Regions from separate parts of the Homo sapiens genome. Here region 1 is linked to region 2. The links come from fine-mapping of genetic effects on gene expression. Tissue or cell type: testis. Region 2 holds a variant in brackets; the other region holds the start of a gene. All regions are shown on one strand. Distances are from middle to middle.

The links. PIP is the estimated chance that this variant, and not a neighbour inherited with it, causes the effect. A credible set is the group of variants that fine-mapping cannot tell apart.
Region 1: it holds the start of LINC02841, and the variant in region 2 is the best candidate, but not a certain one, in a credible set for the expression of LINC02841 in testis (GTEx, PIP 0.87).

The regions. Positions count from the first base shown.
Region 1 is chr19:31,518,882-31,521,648 of GRCh38, forward strand. LINC02841 (long intergenic non-protein coding RNA 2841) reads left to right here and starts at 1,306. Exons shown (of 3, transcript NR_184026.1): 1 at 1,306-1,443.
Region 2 is chr19:31,549,499-31,552,265 of GRCh38, forward strand. The region is part of intron 2 of LINC02841 (long intergenic non-protein coding RNA 2841); the gene reads left to right. Among named protein-coding and RNA genes, the nearest start is that of LINC02841, 31 kb to the left of the region's middle. The variant T/C (reference allele first, on the strand shown) is at 1,727.

The sequences.
Region 1 (2,767 bases), 31 kb before region 2:
TGACATCTTTCCAGACCCTTGAAGGGATTAGAACTGGATTAGTTTGAGATGAGCCTGGCTCTGCCGTTATCACCTGTTTATAGGATAATGACATTATCTAGTTTGGCCCGTAAGGGCCTCCATACGTAGGAGCTTCGTTCTCTTTGATCTGGAGGGTCGCAGACAACATATCTTTAAATCTAAACAAACTCACTGAAGCCCAAGATAAGTGTTCAAAATACCCAGTGAGAAGAAAGGAGCCTCTCTTTTCCCTTCCTGCCCAATGCAAAGAGCAATTTTAAAATTGTGTGCACTCACACGATTTTAAAACCTAAAACTCATCCTGCCACTTTGGACCCTAGCTTCCTTGCGTCTCCTTTCACGTGTGCACAGAATTCTGAAGTTTGTAGAGCTTTTTCAACCCATCTCAACTTATATGGTGAGCACAGCCGTCTGAGCAGAGCAGGGTGAGCTCAATACACATGATACAGGCTGGGACACAAAACACAAGGCTCAGGGAAGACAAGGAGTTTGGCAACCCTCATGTCTTTTTTAAGAGAGGAGCTGTGGTTAAACCCAGCTCATCTGGAAAAACCCAGCACTCATTTCACTGCCTGAAGCCATCTATGAACCGACCTCTCTGCCCAGACAGCTTTCTTTAAAGAGGATCCTCATTACCCTTCACAGAAAACATCTGTTTAGACAGATGTTCCAGGAGGTCCTTGGCCCAAGTCCACTTTCTTGTCCCAAGGCTTCCCTAACGTCCATCATCCCTGTTTAAAAATTATTTTTATTGAAGTATAATTTACATGCAATATAGGCAATCTGCTTTAAGTGTACTGACCTTTTGTTAAGTTTTGGAAAATGTGTACCTTTGTGGAAATGATGCAGGACAGGAAAGACCCAAAACTAGGGCTTAGCCTGGGAAGTTTCTTGGTTTTGCCCAGGAAAGAATTCAAGGGGGAGCCGGTGGTATTAGACAGCAGCTTCTATTGAAAAGGCCATGCACAGCAGCAGAGGGACTGCTCCTTGCAAAGCAGGGCCACCCTACAGACTGTGTGCCTGGACATGCAGCTCAGAGGCACCTCTGCAGACATATTTATACCCACTTTTAATTACATGCAAATTAAGTGGCAGATTATGCAGAAATTTCTAGGAAAAGGGTGGCAACTTCCAGGTCACTGGGTCATTGCCATGGAAAGGGGCAGGGTGTTGCCATGGAGTGTGGCCATGGCAATGGCAAACTGACATGGCACAATGGTAGGCATGTCTCAAGGAAAGCTGCTTCCACTCCACCCCTGTTTCAGCTATTTCTCAATTTGGTCCAGTGTTCAAGCCCAACCTTTGGAGTCGAGTCCCACCTCCTACCTCAGAACCACCACCATAATCAGGATTTAGAATGCATCACCCCAAAATGTTTCTTCATGTCCCTGGCCCCTTGCTTTCAATCTCCTACAGCTCCTAGTGAGTATTGATAGTTCAGTCACTATAGTTTTTCTTTTTCTAGAAATTCGCCTAAGTGGAATTATATAATATGTACCAGCTTCTTTCTTATATCTGGCTTCTTTTACTTGGCATGCTGTTTTTGAGAGTTAGGCATTTTGTTGTGTGTTTGATTAGTTTGATTTTTGTAGTGTGTTTGATTTGCTGTGTGTTTTTCTTTATATTGCAGAGTAGTATTCCACCGTATGTATATACCATAAAATGATTTATCGATGCTCCAGTTTTAGACATGCAAGTAGTTTCCAGCTTAAGGCCATTCTGAATAACGCTGCTATGGACATTTAGGTACAAGTTTTTGTGTTAATATGTTCTCACTTATCTTGGACAAATATCTAGGAGTGAGATTTTGGCCCATATGATAAATAGATATTTACATTATAAGAAACTTTCTATTTTTTAAAGTGGCTGTATTCCTGCCAGTAATGTTTAACATTCCAATTGCTCCACATCCTCACCAACACTTGGTATTGTCAGTCTTTCTAATTTTACCATTCTTGTGTATGTACAGTAGTGTCTTGTTGTGGTAGTATTTGCATTTCCTTAGAAACTAATGATGTTGAGCATTTGTTCATGTCCTTAATTGACATTCATAATATTTTCTTTGGTGAAAGGCCAGTTCAAATCTTTTGCCCATTTAGATTGATTATCTTCTTATATTTGAGTTGTGCCAGTTCCTTATATATTCTGGGTGTATCTCCTTTTTCAGATATTTCTAGCAAATATATTCTCATAGTTTGTGGCTTTTCATTTTCTTAGACATGTCTTTCAAAGACTAAAAGTTCTAATTTTGATAAGTCATTTATTCATTTTTTCTTTTATGGTTTGTGTTTTTTGTGTCTTATGTAAGCAATTTTTACTTAGGCCAAGATCACAGGGTTTTCTTTTCTATTTTCCTCTAGAAGTGTTAATTTTTATGTATAATGTGAGCTAAGAAATGAGGTTTATATTTTCCATGTGCATATATTGTTATTTCAGCATGTTACACCTCTCAATGTATATAAGTCTTTTCTATTTTATCTCAGTAATAATTTGTAGTTTTCAGAATATGCCTCTCACATTGTTTATTTTATTCCTATTAATATTTTTCATACTATTATAAAAGGTATTTTAAAACTTTGCTTTATAAAAATTTGTTGTACATTTTTATTTTTATTCCTTTTTTAATTTTTAATTTTGTGGGTACATAATAGGTGTGTTTATTTATGGAGTACATGAGATATTTTGATATAGGCATGCAGTTTGTAATAATCACGTCACAGAAAATGGGGTATCCATTCCCTCAAGT
Region 2 (2,767 bases):
TTTTGAGAACTATTTCTACTTCTGCCTCTGCACCTTTTAGATTAGCACCATCTGGCTCTGCTACCCTCTACTTCTTATGATCCCCAGCATTTACCACTCTCCTGGGCACTTTTGCCATTCACCAAGAATCATGAGAACTGGGTCAACATCCTCCTCTACCACCAAATATTGTCATTATGAAGGGTGAACTCAGCTTTAACAAGGATGATCTGTAGCCCATCACTGTTGTGTTACAGATGACTGATCCACTTGCCCATCTCAGTGACCTCACCCTACTTTAGCCAGCCAGCCAGGTGCTGGACCATCTCCGCCCCTAGGTGCACCATACCTTCTCCCCAAAACTACAACTCTCTCAAATCTTAAATGCTAGAACCATCTCATTCTCAGGTCCAATGTCTTATCCTAGCTCTCTTAAAGATTTCCTCATTTTTGTACATTTACTTCTATTTTTCTGAGACTTCTGGGTCTTGGATGCTGATATCATTTGTATTCCCACCCAAATTTTGACCTGTCATCCCAAGATGTCAAGGGAGGGACCTGGAGGGAGGTAATTGGATCATGTGGGAGGTTTCTCCCATGCTGTTCTCATGATAGTGAGGGAGCTCTCACAAGATCGGATGGTTTTATAGGGGGCTCTTCCCCCTTCACTTGCTTGCTGTCTCTCTTGTTGCTTTGTGAAGAAGGTGCCTTGCTTCCCCTTCACCTTCTGCCCTGATTGTAAGTTTCCTGAAGCCTCCTCAGCCATATGGAACTGTGAGTCGATTAAGCCTCTTGTATTAGTCTGTTCTCACGCTGCTATAAGGACATACCTGAGACTGGGAAATTTATAAAGGAAAGAGGTTTAATTGACTCACAGTTCTGCAGGGCTTGGGGGGCCTCAGGAAACTTACAATAATGGCAGAAGGGGAAGCAAACATATCCTTCCTCACATGGTGGCAGCAAGGAGAAGTGCAGAGTGAAGAGAGTGAAGATGGTTATAAAACCATCAGATCTCATGAGAACTCACCCACTATCACAAGAACAGCATGGAGGTAACTGCCCCCATGATTCAATTACCTCCCATTGGATCCCTCTCATGACACGTGGGGATTATGGGAACTACAGTTCAAGATGAGATTTGGGTAGAAACACAGCCAAACCCTATCACCTCTTCCCTTTATAAATTACTCAGTCTTAGGTATTTCTTTATAGCAGTGTGAAAACGAACTAATACAGATGCCTTCTGAGCATCTTCTGAGATTCTGAATAGAATCTTCTGAGCATTCTATTTTCCTTCTGAGCAGTGCTTTCTCCCTTTGTTTCTCCATCTCATCTCCATGGTCTTTTGTTTCAACCATTCTCATGCCACTGAGTCTCCTCTATGACACTCCTCCTTTGCTTGTTTATGCCTCACCCAGGCAAATTCTTATTCTTGAAGCAATCTCTTCATTCCCCACCTCTATTTTCACTCTGAGTTGGCAAGGACCACTGGAGAAACATCACGCAAACTTTGCAAAGCTTGCAAACTGGAGGCACCACAAACACAAGTTCTTTAGGTGCTGATGAGTCTTCTGCACTGATGAGCACTCCTGCAAGGTTTCTCTCCAGGGCAGTAAATCCTCTGAGTGGTTATTCCAAAACTCCTTAATGGTTTTCCAGTCCCTTACTGCCACCTCCCTCCCTCACCCTTCTCCTTCTCTCCCCTCTTGGTGGGAAGTCTGTCCCCATGTTGGAAGTAGTTCTCCTA[T/C]CCCCACCTCCCTCCCTCATCCTCCTCCTTCTCTCCCCTCTCACAGCAGAAAGCCCATACCCTAGTGTTGGAGATAGGGCCTCTCAATTTCCCTCTGCTCCAGTCTTCCCATTCCTGCCCCCTGAGCACCATGGCTGGGTGGATTTATTCCTTCATACACACACACACACACACACACACACACACACACACACACACACTACCCAGGCTGGAGTGCAGTGGCGCGATCTCAGCTCACTGCTAAGTCTACCTCCTGGGTTCAAGCCATTGTCCTGCCTCAGCCTCCCAAGTAGCTGGGATTACAGGAATGCACCACCGCACCCAGTTGATTTTTGTGTTTTTAGTAGAAACGAAGTTTCACCATGTTGCCCAGGCTGGTCTTGAACTCCCATCCTCAGATGATCCACCCGTCTGGGCCTCCCAAAGTGCTGGGATTACAAGTGTGAACCACTATGCCCAGATCTCTTCTAGATTTTATCATCTCCCACTCTTTATCTCTCTTTGCTTATTCCTTCCAACAATTAAGCATACTTAAACATCATCCACATTTATGAAGAAAGATATCTCCTACAGCCCTAAGGACCTTTTTGTCCTCACAACCAGTAAGTTTCTAAAGAGTTATCATCTCTTGCTGGACCCACTTCTCATAGCTCTATTCCCTCTTTAACATACTACTGTTTGACTTTGGAGCCCTCCATCTCTCACCAAGATTGCTTAAATGCTTGCAGACAGATAACACTTTTCAATTTTCAGCTAACGTGTTTTATTTTTCCGCAAGCATGAGGGCATAACTACCTCTTGAAAATTTGACTTACGAGACACCACAGCCTCCCTGGGTTCTTTCTTTGCTGCCTTTCTGGCCATTCCTTTTTGGGCTCCTTCGGAGACTTCTCATGATCTCCTCTCTCTCTCTCTCTTTCTCTCTCTCTCTCTCTCTCTCTCCATACAATATGTCATTTCCTTGGGGTTTTATTGTATTTTTTCTCTTTACCCTACGTACTCTGTAGGCAAGCTTGGCCTCTCCTTTTGGGCTTCAAATAT